Regions from separate parts of the Homo sapiens genome. Here region 2 is linked to region 1. The links come from fine-mapping of genetic effects on gene expression. Tissue or cell type: whole blood. Region 1 holds a variant in brackets; the other region holds the start of a gene. All regions are shown on one strand. Distances are from middle to middle.

What was found. PIP is the estimated chance that this variant, and not a neighbour inherited with it, causes the effect.
Region 2: CYP2S1 starts here. The variant in region 1 is fine-mapped to the expression of CYP2S1 in whole blood (TOPMed, PIP 0.93).

Annotation. Positions count from the first base shown.
Region 1 is chr19:41,229,530-41,237,632 of GRCh38, reverse strand. It overlaps AXL (AXL receptor tyrosine kinase), which reads right to left. Exons shown (of 20, transcript NM_021913.5): 5 at 6,586-6,666; 6 at 6,335-6,450. Among named protein-coding and RNA genes, the nearest start is that of AXL, 14 kb to the right of the region's middle. The variant T/G (reference allele first, on the strand shown) is at 3,704.
Region 2 is chr19:41,188,467-41,196,569 of GRCh38, reverse strand. CYP2S1 (cytochrome P450 family 2 subfamily S member 1) reads right to left here and starts at 3,351. Exons shown (of 9, transcript NM_030622.8): 1 at 3,129-3,351; 2 at 1,861-2,026. The coding sequence starts at 3,305. LOC124904790 reads left to right here and starts at 3,518. Exons shown (of 3, transcript XM_047439802.1): 1 at 3,518-3,590. The coding sequence starts at 3,518. It also overlaps the pseudogene RN7SL718P. RefSeq lists enhancers at 1,502-2,014, 3,325-3,825 and a silencer at 3,323-3,412.

The DNA of each region.
Region 1 (8,103 bases):
TTAAGTGTAGTTATGCCCAAAGGATGCCACAGTGCATGGCGGGTGGTCAGCACCGATAATAATAGTGTGATGACAATAATAACGCAAATAGACTGGGCACGGTGGCTCCCGCCTGTAATCCCAGCACTTTGGGAGGCCAAGGTGGGCGATCACTTGAGGTTAGGAGTTCAAGACCAGCCTGGCCAACGTGGTGAAACCCCATCTCTTCCAAAAATGTAAAAAATTAGCTGGATGTGGTGGCGCTCGCCTGTAATCCCAGCTACTCGGGAGGCTGCGATAGGAGAACCACTTGAACCTGGGAGGCAGAGGTTACAGTGAGCTAAGATCACACCACTGCACTCCAGCCTGGGTAACAGAGCAAGACTCTGTCTCAAATAATAGTAATGATCATCATAATAATAGCACGATACTGTGAGGCCCCATTTATATGACATTATACTACAGGCAAAAGCAATGTTCTAGAAGCAGAAGGGTGGCCATCTCTGGGGCCTGAGGGAGACTTCTTGGGGACTGGAAGGGTCTGTGTCTTGATTTGGATGGTGGTTACATGGTGAATATGTGTGTTAAACAATCTCAAAGGTGTCCAATCTTTTGACTTTCTTGGACCACAGTGGAAGAAGAATTGTCTTGGGCCACACATAAAATACGCTAACACTAACGATAGCTGATGCGTTAAAAAAAAAAATCACAAACAAATCTCATAATGTTTTAAGAAAGTTTACGAACTTATGTTGGGCCGCATTCAAAGCCATCCTGGGCCACATGTGTTAGACGAGCTTGATCTAGAGGTACACTGAAGATTATGCATGTTATACATCTCATTTCTTTTTCTTTTTTTTTTTTTTTCCTTTTTTTGGAGAGGGAGTCTTGCTCTGTCGCCCAGGCTATAGTGCAGTGGTGAGATCTTGGCTCACTGCAACCTCCGTCTCCTAGGTTCAAGCAATTCTTCTGCCTCAGCCTCCCAAGTAGCTGGGACTACGCGTACCACCACGCCCGACTAATTGCCGTATTTTCAGTAGAGACAGCGTTTCACCATGTTAGTCAGGCTGGTCTCAAACTCTTGACCTCAGGCAATCCGCCCGCCTCAGCCTCTCAAAGTGCTGGGATTACAGGTGTGAGCCACCGTGCCCGGCCTATGAGTCTCATTTCATCACCTGAGCTGGAGTGCAGTGGCGTGATTTCGGCTCACTGCAATCTCCGCCTCCCAGGTTCAGGCAATTCTCATGCCTCGGCCTCCCAAGTAGATGGGATTACAGGCGTGAGCAACCATGCTTGACTAATTTTTTTTTTTTTTTTTTTTTAGACAGAGTCTTGCTCTGTCACTCAGGTTGGAGTGCAGTGGTACAATCTCGGCTCACTGCAACCTCCGCCTCCTGGGCTCAAGTAATTCTTCTGCTTCAGCCTCTCGAGTAGCTGGGGCTACAGTCATGTGCCACCATGCCTGGCTAACTTTTTTGTATTTTTAGTAGAGACGAGGTTTCATCATGTTGGTCAGGCTGGTCTTGAACTCCTGATCTCAAGTGATCCGCCCCCCTCGGCCTCCCAAAGTGCTGGGATTACAGGTGTGAGCTACCACACCCGGCTTTTTTTTTATTCTGTGTAGAGAAAGGGTTTCACCATGTTGCCCAGGCTGGTCTCAAACTCCTGACCTCAGGTAATCCACCTGCCTCGGCCTCCCAAAGTGCTGGGATTACAGGCGTGAGCCACCTCACCTGACTATGTTATATATTATCTTAATAAAAAAAGATAAAACACGTCCAACATGTACTGAGTGCCTTTCTTAGCCCTTGACAAATCTGAATTCATTTGGCCCTCACATCAATCCTGTTGTCCTGTGGTAAGCATTATGCTTATTCCCACTGTACAGATGACAACACTGAGGCCCAGAGAGACGGAATCACTTGTTCAAGGTCATCAGTTTGTCACTGATGAAGCTGGGACCTAAACCCCATCCTGTCCCCAGAGTCTTTGCTCTACTGGCGGTAAGAATATCAGTAATGGTAACAATACCTCTTGTCTGTGCACAGAGGCAGTTTAGCCTAGTGCTGAGGAGCACGGATGCTGGATCTGGGGCTCAAATCCAGGCTCTATCATTCCCTAGCTGTGTGCCTCAGTCTTCTCACCTGTAAAATGGGATGACAGTGGCTCCCCACTTCACAGGGTTGACTGAATTGGGGCATGTAAGCATTTAGAAGACTGCTTGTGCATACTGTCATTTATTATCTATCTATCTATCTATCTATCTATCTATCTATCTATCTATTTATTTATTTATTTATTTGAGATGGAGTTTCGCTCTTGTTGCCCAGGCTGGAGTACAATGGCATGATCTCGGCTCACTGCAACCTCCGCCTCCCAGGTTCAAGTGATTCTCTTGCCTCAACCTCCTGAGTAGCTAGGATTACAGGCATGCACCACCACACCCGGCTAATTCTGTATTTTTAGTAGAGACAGGGTTACTCCATGTTGGTCAGGCTGGTCTCAAACTCCCTACCTCAGGTGATCTGCCCGCTCAGCCTCCCAAAGTGCTGGGATCACAGGCACGAGCCACCGTGCCCGGCCTGTCACTTATTATTTTATGTGTGTTTCCTGGCAACAAGTGTCAAGCTCTGCATAGCGGCACAGGTTCCCATACCTATTCCACCCGAGGAATGGCACACTCAGAGTGGAGGGGGCCACCACTGGTGTACACATCTGTATAGCCCTGCCACATGGAACCACAAAACCCCCATAACCACACAATTCACAGCCACGCCTCAGGAATGGTGCAGCCAAGGGCTTCCCCTTCACCCTGGAGACTCCAGCCATACAGCCACACAGTATGTCAGGAAGGAGTTTACTGCCACAGGGTGTGGGCTCTAAAGCCAGATTCCTTGGATCTAAGTCCTGTGTTGGATGTTGTTTGCTGTGTGACCTAGAGTGAGTGTCTTAACTTCTCTGAGTCTCAGTTTCTGTCTCTGGAAAATGGGCATCACAGTTCTTACTTGTCAGGGTATAAGGTTTAATGACATGATGCATATAAACTGCTTTGCACATTATAATTATCAACAGCTAACGTTTGTTTTCTTTCTTTCTTTCTTTTTCTTTTTTCTTTTTTTTAGGCAGGGTCTCACTCTGTCACACAAGCTGGAGTGCAGTGGTGTAATGACAGCCCCACCTAATTTTTTAATTATTTGGAGAGATGGCGTTTCACCATGTTGGCCAGGCAGGTCTCAAACTCCTGGGCTCAAGCGATCCACCTGCCTCGGCCTCCCAAAGGTCTAGTATTACAGGTGTGAGCCATGGCACCCGGCCTAGCAAATATTTCTTGAGTGCCAAATATGTACCAAGCTCTCTGTCAAGCACATTACTGGATGAACTCATTGACTTCGCACTACCACCCTATGGGGTCAATTTCTTTTCTCATCCCCATTTTACAGACAGGGAAGCCAAGGCCCAGAGAGGTTCAGCAACTTGCCCAAAGTCACACAGCCCCCATGGAGGGAGATGACACCACCATGAGACCTGGGGAGGAGTGGGGGCAGATGGTGGGTACGAGGAGGGGGTGAGGCTGTCACCATGCCTGCTCTCTGACCTGCAGTGACAGACAGGAAGAGGAACCTCTACCAGGACAGAGAGGAGATGGGTACAGACAGTTGGTCTCCCCATGCCTGCTCCCACTTCTCTTTTCCCTGGGACGGCTGTGACCCTCCCACTGGAACTC[T/G]TCAGCCCTAGCCCATGTGCAGCAGGAAGTGAGACCTGGAAAGGGAAGAGGACACACTTCTGCTTTCCTGGGGACACTTGGTGATGTGGGTAGAGTGCAACTTATGCCTGACCTGGCATTTGAGGTCTCCCAAATCCAGCTGGCCTCTGGGATTGAATCTCAGCTTCGGCTTTCTAGCCCCGGGGAGGGGAGGAGGATGGGAGGAACTGAGGCCCAGAGAGGGGGCCCCTCTCTGGGCCTCAGTTCCTCACCTTGAAAACGGGAAGATTAATAGCCACTGTTTTTTGTTTTTTTTTTTCTCAGACAGAGTCTTACTCTGTCACCCAAGCTGGAGAGCAGAGGTTCAATCCTGCCTCACTGTAGCCTTGACTGCCAGGCTCAGGTGATTGTCCCACTTCAGCCTCCCGAGTATCTGGGACTACAGGTGTGTGCCACCACACTGAGCTAATTTTTTTGAATTTTTTGTACAGACCTGCCTCAGCCCCCCGAAGTGCTGGGATTACAGGCGTGAGCTATCATGCCCAGCCAATAGCCACTATTTTCTAGGTTTAAAACGACAAGCAGATGGGGTTGTGCTCAGAGCATGTAAGTATAAGACAATTCCTGTTTAATCAAGCACTGACTCTAAACATTTTCTCAGGGCCCAGCGCGGTGCCTCACGCCTGTAATCCCAGCACTTTGGGAGGCCGAGGTGGGCGGGTCACTTGAGGTCAAGAGTTCGAGACCAGCCTGACCAACATGGTGAAACCCTGTCTCTACTAAAAATACAAAAATTAGCTGGGCGTGGTGGTGGGCGCCTGTAATACCAGCTACTCAGGAGGCTGAGGCAAGAGAATTGCTTGAACCTAGGAGGCGGAGGTTGCAATAAGCCGTGATCACGCCACAGCACTCCAGTCTGGGTAACAGAGCGAGACTCTGTCTCAAAAAAAAAAGAAAAGAAAAAACAAAAAACAGTTTCTAAGGAGGTTAGGAGCATGACATGGGTTTGATGTGACCTTGGACAATCTGGTTAACCACTCTGAGCCTTAGTTTCTTCATCTGGAAAATGGGTGTATCCATAGACCCTCCTTCACAAACACACGAGCAGGTGTGCGTTAATGCAAGACCCGGTGCACAGCGGACACTCAGTAGAAATTGGTCATTCTTCATTACTGTCATCTACCATCATAGGCACTGTCCACCCCCCATCTCCAACTTTCTAATCTCAGAGAACTTCAGACCAGAATTAGGCCTTATATTTACAGATCTGTGAGTTTTGTTTTGGTTTTGGTTTTCTTCTTTCTTTCTTTCTTTTTTTTTTTTTCTTGAGACGGAAGTTCGCTCGTGTTACCCAAGCTGGAGTGCAATGGCACGATCTCGGCTCACTGCAACCTCTGCCTCCAGGGTTCAAGGGATTCTCCTGCCTCAGCCTCCTGAGTAGCTGGGATTACAGGTGTGTGCCACCACACCCGGCTAATTTTTTGTATTTTTAGTAGAAATGGGGTTTCACCATGTTAGCCAGGCTGGTCTCGAACTCCTGACCTCAGGTGATCCACCAGCCTTGGCCTCCCAAAGTGCTGGGGTTACAGGTGTAAGCCACCACACCTGGCCTGGTTTTGGTTTTCTTATTCTAGGAGCAACTTGAGGGCAGAGGCTGGGTCTAGCTCATCTGGGTTGTAATATATCCTTCTAGCGAATATTCCCTACTCTATGTCTGGTCCTGTGCTGGGCAAGAATGAGGAGCCAGTGGTGACTGGGACAGCTCCAGCCCTGCCCTGTCAGAGCTCACATTCCAGTAGGGGACAGACCCATCCCCAGACAGTGACCACACAGAGTGGCCAGGGCTGGGATGGGAGAAGTGGAGGGTTCTGGGTATCCAGTGGTGACAGAAATGGCTCCAGACTCTGCTGTCTCAGGGCTCCCACTCTGGCTAGAGTTAACATCACTAATACTGAAAATAATTAAAACAGCTGATCATTTTCATTTTGTTAAATTTTTTTTGTTGTTGTTTCTTTTTTTTTTTTGAGACAGAGTCTCGCTCTGTCACCCAGGCTGGAGAGCAGTGGCACGATCTTGGCTCACTGCAACCTCCGCCTCCCAGGTTCAAGCAATTCTCCTGCCTCAGCCTCCCCAGTAGCTGGGACTACAAGTGCGTCCCACCAGGCCCAGTTAATTTTTGTATTTTTAGTAGAAATGTGGTTTCACTATGTTGGCCAGGCTGGTCTCGAACTCCTGACCTCAAGTGATCCGCCCACCTCGGCCTCCCAAAGTGCTGGGATTACAGGTGTGAGCCACCGCGCCTGGCCAATTTTGTTAAATTTGTTTCCTATGTTCTATATACCATTTTAAGTTGGTAATTTGCATTCACTCATTGAATTTTCACACTAAGCATACCAGGTAGGCACTACCATTATGTCCATTTTGTAGACAAGAGAGCTGAGCCCCGGACAGATTAAGCCACCTACCCAAGGTCACACAGCCAGAAGGTGGTGGAGCTAGGATTCGAACCCAGGACATCTGGCTTAACCCCCCAGGCTCTACTGCTTCTCAACAGTGGCCGAGAAGTGGTGGGTTCCCAGGGAGAGGATGGGGGTTGTGGATGTGGGTGGAAGGAGGCCTGAGACTGAAATGAACCAAGTTTGGGAGTCTCACCTGCAGGGTGCAGTGGGTCAGGGGGTAGATGCCGCTCAGGCCTGGAGTCCAAGCCACCTCCAGCTCCGTGGGTTGGCGGGAGACCAGGTGGAGGTTACGGGGCTGCTGGGGGAGCACTGTGGACAAACGGGAGAGATTGACCCTGGGGAGCCTTTGCTCAAAGCTCCCTACCCTGCTCTCTGCCCCCACTCTGACCCCGGACCCAAACCCCACCCTCTGACGCCCAGCTCCCCACCTCCCAACTCTGTCACCTGTGATGGTGGCTGTGCGGGATGTGGTGACCCCCTTGGCGTTATGGGCTTCGCAGGAGAAAGAGGATGTCTTGTTCAGCCCTAGGGAGTCATATGAGGGAAGGGTCCAATATCAGAGAGGGGCAGGAAGGGCTCCGGGGCCATGCCGGGCCACTCCTACCATGGCCTGCCTGACCAGGGGCAGTGCAGCCCACACAGGCACTTGCCTGAAGGGAGGGTTAGCAGAGTTGAGGGCAATGAGTTAGGAACACAGCCTCCATCCCCAAACACAAGGATGGCTTGGTTTCAGCCCTAACCTCCCGCCACACAGACACACATAGTACAGACACACACAGACACACACAGGCACAGGCACAGGCACACACACTGTCTCACACACACATTCTTACACCCCAGAGACAGACACACTCATACACACACATAGACACACATACTCACACAGAAACACACAAAGACACACACAGCCACACACAGGCACAGGCACACACACTCATACACACAGACACACAGACACAGACACACACAAAGACACACAGCCACACACAGGCACAGGCATACACACACAAAAACACACATACACAAACACACATGAAGACACACAACCACACACAGTCACAGGCACACTCACTCTTACACCCCAGATAGAGACACACACTCATACACACACATAGACACATATGCTCAGACACACACACAGGCACAGGCGCATACACACACACACACACATTCTTACACCCCAGAGAGAGATACATACTCATACACACACATGCTCACACAGACTCACACACAGTCACACACAGGCACACACACACATTCTTACACCCCAGAGACACATACTCATACACACACATATAAACACATATGCTCACACACAGACACAGACACAGACACAGAAACAGACACAGCCACACACACACACTGTGTCTCACACACACAGATTCGTACACCTAGATACTCACATACTCATATACACATATATAGACACACACAGAAATACACGTGCTCATATATATGGACATAGACACATATATACATACTCACACATAGACACACAAAAGCATACACAGACACACACACACAAGGAGACACACAAACATGCACACACTCACATGCACAAACACAGGCACCCTCACTAACTCACAAGGACACAAGTATGAGCACACACACCTGCTAGACACACTTAGGGAAACTGGCCCATGGCTGTACATCAATGGAGACATGTCTGTTCATCTCTAAGCTCGCCTCCTACCAACCCCTCTCCCACTCTCCCTGTCACACGCTCTTCTCCGGCCACACTGGCCTCCAGTGTCTCTGGAACACATACATGAAGCATGTTTCCACTCCAAGAACTGTGCACTGTTCCCTGTGCTCAAAACAGTCTTCCACAAATGTCTACATGACTCGCACCCTCTTCTTTCATTTTTGTTCCTCAACAACACCTCTCAGTCCGCTAGGCCTGGCCACCCTGTTAATATTGGAGCTTGGCCAGGCATAGTGACTCATGACTGTAATCCCAGC
Region 2 (8,103 bases), 41 kb after region 1:
ATTACTCCTTCCTCCCCATCCCCTGGCCCCAGCCCTGGTCCATCACCGCGGACCTCCCAGCCTCCCCATCACCCTGGATCCTCCCTATCACCCTGGGCTCCTAGCCTCCAGTTTCATCCCCTTCAGGCAGCAACCACAGGATCTTCCCAACTCTGAATACAGCTGTTCCCTGCTTAAAATCGACTGCTCCCAGGAAAAACAAAAGCCCAAACACTCTGACGTGACTCACAGGCCCTGCATGACCAGGGATTTCCCTGGCTTCTCAGCTTTGTTACTTAACCCACTACGACTGCGCTGGTCTTCTCTCACTTCCTCAAGGGCGTCAGGATCCCCTGTCTAGGCCTATGATCCTGCAGTTCCCTCTGCCTCCATCACTCTCACCCCTTTCCATCCCATCCTTGGTGAACTAACTCGTTCATCCTTCATGTCCCGGCTTAAATGTCACCTTCTCTGAGAAGCCTTCCCTGATTCCCTCTTTACCCTCGTACATATGCCTGTGCCCTGTGTTTGCTCTCAAATCTGTACCTCTCATTTTAGGATTATATTCCCTCCCTCTATTGTCTTACTGCAGTATAAGCCCGCCTCTCCCACAGTAGGAGAGGACACCATATCTGCCTGAGTCATTTCTATGTACCTGGTACCCATGGTACCAGGTATAATGATTTTTTGTTTGTTTGTTTGTTTTGTGGAGGCAGGGTCTCACCATGTTGCCCAGGCTTGTCACAAATGCCTAGGCTCAAGTCATCCTCCCCATTCAGCCTTCCAAAGTGCTGGGATTACAGGCATGAGCCAGCGTGCCCAGTCTGAAAATTCATCAGTTGAATGGATGAATGCTTCTCTCAAAGTCATGCTTTTGTAGGTGCTGGTCTTTCTGCCTGGAACACCCTCCCCACTCATCTTATGAGTCTCAGCTCCGACAGCCTCTCTTCCAGGAAGACTTCCTGAAGCTCCCTCACCAAACATGCCGGGTCAGGTACCTCCTCTAAATTCCTACAGTCCCAGGGCTTCCCTCAGCCTGGCCCTGACCCCTCTTGCCCTGACCCCTCCCCATCCCACCCTGACCTTTCTCCCCGTGCTTCCCCATCTTGGCCCTGACCACTCTGGGCTGGGACTGTGTGGTGAGTCTGTTTCCCCACTGGCCTAGGTGCGCTGGGGAAGCAGCACCGGTGCTGTCTTAGTTACTACTGAGTTCCTGGCAGCACCCAGCATGGGCCTCCTGCTTTCTGTTGTAATACAGAGAACTGTTTCTATTATTCGAGGGCTTGCCCACCAATCCCCAGCACCTTGAAAGCGCTCCGGCATCTTTCTGAACCCTCAGGGCTTTACCTGGATCATTGATGGTTATCACTGATACTACAACCTGGTGATTAGTGAGTGCTCACTTTGCACAAGGCTCAGTCCTCACTCAATCACTCAATCCTACATGATGGGCACTGCTTTTTGTTTGTTTGTTTGAGATGGAGGCTCACTCTGTTGCCCAGACTGGAGTGCAGTGGCACAGTCTTGGTTCACTGCAACATCTGCCTCCCGGGTTCAAGCGATTCTCCTGCCTCAACCTCCCAAGTATCTGGGATTACAGGTACGCACCACCATGCCCAGCTAATTTTTATATTTTTAGTAGAGACAGGGTTTCACCATGTTGGCCAGGCTGGTCTCGAACTCCTGACCTCAAGTGATCCACCCACCTCCGCCTCCCAAAGTGTTGGGATTTCAGGCACTAGCCACTGCACCCGGCTGATGGGCACTGTTATCACTCCATTTGACAGATGAGGCAACAGAGGGACTAAGCCATGTGCAAAGGTCACACACCAGTAAGTGGTGGCAGGCTGTGAGCGGAGGGCCTAGCAGCCCTTGACTTACCATGGCCATCAAAAGTCCCTTCCAGCATCGCTACGGTTCCCCGGCCGCTGAACTCCTCAGCCTGACCTCCCAGGGCCTCCCGCACAGCCTCCTGCCCAACCAGGACCACCACAGGCCGCCAGGGTCCCAGGTAGATGGTGAACACCGGTCCGTACTTCTTACTCAGCTGGGGGTAGGGAGGAAGAAAGAGGAGGGTGCTGTGACCTCTTCGATCCAAGGTGTCTCCATCATGGCCCCTGTCACTTGAGGAGCCACCGGGTCTAGCTTCTACGCCCTCTACCAGGAACCTGCCCCCATCCCAGCAGAAATAGCTGAGGCTCAGTTCTCTTTTTGCACTAGGCTCCCGGGCCTCCTCCCCCAGTACATCCTTCAGTGGCATCCCCCAACTTCCTGTCGTTCCCTTGCTTCCTGCTGAACCCTAACCTCTGACGCTGGGCAATCCAGAAGCAGTTTGGGTCTCCCTTAATTCCTTAGGGCCCTCCCTGCCCCCCAAATATCCAGCCACCCCTTTCAGTCACCACAAAACCCTGAAATTCTGGAGCAGACACTGCTGAGTATCCGCCCCATCTCTCCCCCAAGACCCCACCCTTTTTTCTACGTCCTTGAAGTCACCCAGAATCCTTTTGAATGGGAAACTTCAGGCCTCTGCCCACTCCCACCTGCTATCCCCTAAGGCTGGGGCTGCCTCTGCCTTCTTTCTTGCTCTCCTTCCTCCCCAGTCCCAGGAACTCCCAACTGAGCTCCACCCATCCTCCCATCCTGCATTCTCTGCTGGCAGATTCCTTCAGCGGGACCCCCTCTCTGAGCCTGCAACCCTCCAGCCTCTTCTCTGCCTCCAACTCCCCGCAGGGACGCCTCCCCCTTTTCTTCTTTGTGCCCTCTTCAGCATGCCCCACCTGTATGGCTCCAGCTACCTCTCCCTCTGGGACAAGCCCAGCTGCATCAGCTTCTCCTCGGCTGGAGGACTCCTGTCTCTTTCAGCCTCGGTCCCTGCCCATCACCTTCCCAGGATTCTGTAGGCAGAGGTCTCTGCCCCTCCTAGCCCTGGTCCCCCACCCCACGATCCTCTCTCCCGGGCACCTCTCCCCTTCTCAGCCCTGGACAACCTGCTCCTGCCCCCAACCCCAGGACAGCAGCAGCCCCTTTGCCTTGGGACCCCTGCCCCTGCCTCCTCCCTAGGATACCCGAAAAGCCCCTCACCCTGGCACTCGGGTTTCTCTCCCAGGAATCCTCCCACCCCTAGCCAGGACGTCCCCAGAGCCCCTTACCCGCATGAGCCCTGAATACAGCGCCCCGGGCCGTAGCTGCAGGAGGTTTCCCAGCAGTGGTAGCGGCGTGGGCCCGGGGGGCAGGTGGCCTCGGGCCCTGGTCCCGGACAGCGCCAGCGTCAGCAGCAGGAGCAGCGCCAGCGCCAGCAGCAGCGCCCAGGTGCCGGTCGCCTCCATCTCGGCAGGTCGGCTCCTTCTCCTCTCCCAGGCGCTCCGCGCGGCTGGGCTAGTTAGGGGCGGGAGCCGGGCGTCTCCCTCCCCAACGAAGTCAGGCGCGGGGCGGGGCAGCTAGCCCAGCCCCCTGCCTCCTGGGCAGGCTTATCTCCCCGCCGCCGGGTTTCTCCCGGACCACCGCCGCCGCCTGATGTCGGGAACTCATGCTCCAACGGATGTCTCCGAGGTCACCCAGGTTTACGCGGGGCTTGGGCGGCGGAGACAGCGCCTTGGGCCCCCGGATAGGGAGTAAGCAAACAGAAGAACCTGGAAGTCAGAGACTTTGGCCGCCTGGAGGTTGCCACACCCCGCATCTGGCGGTGACCCCGCGCCACTCTCCCCAGCTCCTACCTCGCTCATTGTTCGGATGTGGGTTCCTGTGTGCGTGCGTGTATGGGGTGTCTTTGAGTCAATTTTCTCCAGCATCTTACATCTTCACGAACTGAGAGGAAGGACTTGACCTTTAAGGATAAACAATCTGAAGTCCAGGGAGATAAATCGGTTGGCCCCAGGTCAACTTGGCTGAGTGGCAGAGTTAATATTTTGACTTGGGCCAGTTAGAATGATTGAGTCATTCATTCATTCGTTTAGAGGCAGTTTGCAGAGCGGTTAGGACCGTGATGGCTGAAGCCAGACTGCTTGAATTCACAGCCTAATTCCTCTGTGCCTCTGTTAGCCTTGTAAAATGGGGCTAGTTTTCAGGATTAAATAGTACATCTGTGCACACCATTTAAAGCAGACGCAGGTGCACATGTAACAAGCACTAAATAGATGTTAGCTAATATTTCTGCAACTAACTGTTATTGAGGTCTTACTATAAACAAGACCTTGTTCTAGACCCGAGGGTGCAGCTATGAGCGATGGAGAGAAGGGCTCTGGCCTTCCTGAGCTCATATCCACATGCAGATGAAGATGAGATGAAAACAATTTCAGGAAGTGAGAAGGCCTGCCAGGGGAATGGGCTTCTTGAGAAGGAAGAATGTTAGAACCATTTGTGCATGAATTATTGTAGGTTTGGTTCACTGCTGTATCCCCAACATATAGTGCAGTGCCTGACACACAGTAGGCACTCAATAAATATTTGTTATATTTTCAAAGATTGAATGTAGGAGATAAGATTCATGAAGTCTGCAGGGGCCATCTTGCAAGGTCTTGGAAAAGACTGCATTTTATTTCTATTGCAAACGGAAGCTGTCTGGAGGGGTTTTCAGCAGGGCAGTTACTTTGTTTGCTTTGCATTTTGATTTCGTATTTTATTATAAAAATATTAAAATTTCAAACATACAGTGAACACCTGTATACCCATCAGATTCCACCATTTTATTATCCTTTCTTTGTTACCTATCTATTCTTTTTTTGTTTGAGATAGAGTCTCACTCTGTTGCCCAGAGTGGAGTGCAATAGCATACAGTCTTGGCTCATTGCAACCTCTGCCTCCCGGGTTCAAGCAATTCTCCTGCTTCAGCCTCTCAAGTAGCTGCGATTACAGGCGTGCACCACCATGCCTGGCTATTTTTTGTATTTTTAGTAGAGACGGGGTTTTTGCCATGTTGACCAGGCTGGTCTCAAACTCCTGACCTCAGGTGATCTTCTCACCTCAGCCTCCCAAAGTGCTGGGATTACAGGCATGAGCCACTGTGCCTGGCCCTTTTTTCATTACATATCTGTTCATTTTGCCTATCCATTGATTTTTTTTTAAGCATTTCAAAGTCAGTTGCAGATACCAGTACACTTCACTCCCAAATACATCAGCATGCATATCAGTAGCTAGAGCTCAGTATTTGTTTACAGATACTTTTTGTTCCTCAAGGTATCTTATATACAATGAAATACATAACTCTTAAGTGTATAATTAGATGAGCTTTGAGTTGCATATGCTGGAGTTTTAAAATATTAGATTCTTTGGGAGGCTGAGGCGGGCGGATCACGAGGTCAGGAGATCGAGACCATCCTGGCTAAAATGGTGAAACCCCGTCTCTACTAAAAATACAAAAAATTAGCCGGGCGTAGTGGCGGGCGCCTGTAGTCCCAGCTACTTGGGAGGCTGAGGCAGGAGAATGGCGTGAACCCGGGAGGCGGAGCTTGCAGTGAGCCGAGATCCCGCCACTGCACTCCAGCCTGGGCGACAGAGCGAGACTCCGTCTCAAAAAAAAAAAAAAAAAAAAAAAAATTAGATTCTTAGAATTTTCACAATCTTTTTTTGAGACAGGGTCTCGCTCTGTTGCCCAGGCTGGAGTGCAGTGGCACGATCTTGGCTCACTGCAATCTCTGCCTCCTGGGTTCATGTGATTCTCCTGCCTCAGCCTCCTGAGTAGCTGGGATTACAAGCGCCCACCACCACTCCCAGCTAACTTTTGTATTTTTAGTAGAGTTGGGGTTTCACCATGTTGGCCAGGCTGGTCTCGACCTCCTGACCTCAGGCAATTTACCCACCTCGGCCTCCCACAGTGCTGGGATTACAGGCATGAGCCACTGCCCCCGGCCTGCAATCTTGCAATTTGTATTCTAGTCCAGAGCCCTTTCTCTCAAGAGCATAGCCAGAGTGCTCCCTGGAGTCTGGGGAATCCTTGACTGTGGTCTTCTTTAGCATTGATTCTAGCCTCTAACATTCCAGGGGTGCCCTGAAGCCAAAGGAGGAGGGGTGGGGAGGCTCATACGCTCTTGCTATGAAGTAAATGCCAGTTCTCAGTTCCTCCTTTGCCTTGTTCTGGAAGGTTTCTAGGACGTTCCAAATCCAACCTTGAGCCTATCTGCTCCCTCTGTTCTACCCCTGGGAGAGCTAACAGACATCTCAAACTTCATGGATATAAAAGAATTCCCGATTCCCCCACCTCCTGCAAAGTGGGCTGTACCAGCTTCCCACCCCATCTGGGAATACTTTCTCTCACCTCCTTCCTTACCTCTGTAAAAGGTATCACCATCTTTTCACTTGCTGATGACAACAAAATATAGGAGAGGCCGGGCGCGGTGTCTCATGCCTGCAATCCCAGTACTTTGGGAGGCTGAGGTGGGCAGATCACCTGAGGTCAGGAGTTTGAGACCAGCCTGGCCAACATGGTGAAACCCCGTCTCTACTAAAAATACAAAATTAGCCAGGTGTGGTGGTGCATGCCTGTAATCCCAGCTACTCAGGGAGGCTGAGGCAGGAGAATCGCTTGAATCCGGGAGGCGGAGGTTGCAGTGAGCCGAGATCGCGCCATTGCACTCCAGCTTGGGCAACAAGAGTGAAACTCCGTCTCAAAAAAAAAATAGGAGGAGGGGAAAAAATTAGTTTCATTAGACAACACATCCTTCTGGGTTATCAGATTCTGGTCTTGTTCATTGTTTTTACAGCCATCTTTCCCCCTGATGCAATAGTCTTTCTGCATAATGTCTCTACTCGCCTGAGACCACATCTGTTTTTATTTGTCAGGTTTAACCTTGATTTCTCTCTTTGACTTTAAACCCAGTTTGTCAGCAAATCCTGCTGGCTCTACCTCCAAATACATTCCAAATTTATCCATTTCCTCCTTTCCCTACCACCCTGATCCAACTGACACCAGCCCTGATTCAAGGTACTGTCATTGCTTGCCAGGATTTTGCAGTAGCTTCCCCACTGAGCTACCTGCTTCCTCTCTCCTTCTCCCCCTCCTCCACAATTCATTCACTGGATGCCAGCCAGAAAGGTCTTTTTAAATGCAAGGAGAAAACTAATCTACGGTGGGAGGGAAGAGGGATCAGTACAGACTCCAGGGAGCATTCTCGTTTTGTTTTTGAGACAAAGGTCTCCAGCCTAGAATAAAAATAGAAAGACTGTTGACCAGGCACAGTGGCCAAGGCGGGTGGATCACCTGAGGTCAGGAGTTTGAGACCAGCCTAGCCAGCGTGGTGAAATCCTGTCTCTACTGAAAATATAAAAATTAACCGGCCAGGCGCAGTGGCTCACGCCTGTAATCCCAGTACTTTGGGAGACCGAGGTGGGTGGATCACGGGGTCAGGAGTTCAAGACCAGTCTGGCCAAGATGATGAAACCCCGTCTCTACTAAAAATACAAAAATTAGCCAGACGTGGTGGTGGGCACTTCTAATCCCAGCTAGTCGGGAGGCTGTGGCAGAGAATTGCTTGCTTGAACCCACAAGGCGGAGGTTTCAGTGAGCTGAGATCTCCCCACTGAACTCTAGCCTGGGCGACAGAACGAGACTCCGTCTCAAAAAAAAAAAAAAAATTAACTGGATGTGGTGGTGCACGCCTGTAGTCCCCAGCCACTGGGGTGGCTGAGGCAGGAGAATCACTTGAACCCAGGAGGTGGAGGTTGTAGTGAGCCAAGATTGTGCCACTGTACTCCAGCCTGGGCGATAAAGTGAGACTCAGTGTCAAAAAAAAAAAAAAAAAAAAAAAAAAAATATATATATATATATATATATGGCAAGATTATTATAAAGATTCCATGTCTAATGTTTAAAGATGATGATTGCAACATCCTATAGATAAGAAAACTTAAAAGTTCTTGCCGGGCGTGGTGGCTCACGCCTGTAATCCCAGCACTTTGGGAGGCCGAGACGGGCAGATCACGAGGTCAGGAGATCAAGACCATCCTGGCTAACGCGGTGAAACCCCATCTCTACTAAAAATACAAAAAATTAGCCGGGCGTGGTGTCAGGCGTCTATAGTCCCAGCTACTCGGCAGGCTGAGGCAGGAGAATGGCGTGAACCTGGGAGGTGGAGCTTGCAGTGAGCTGAGATTGTGCCACTGCACTCCAGCCTGGGTGACAGAGTGAGACTC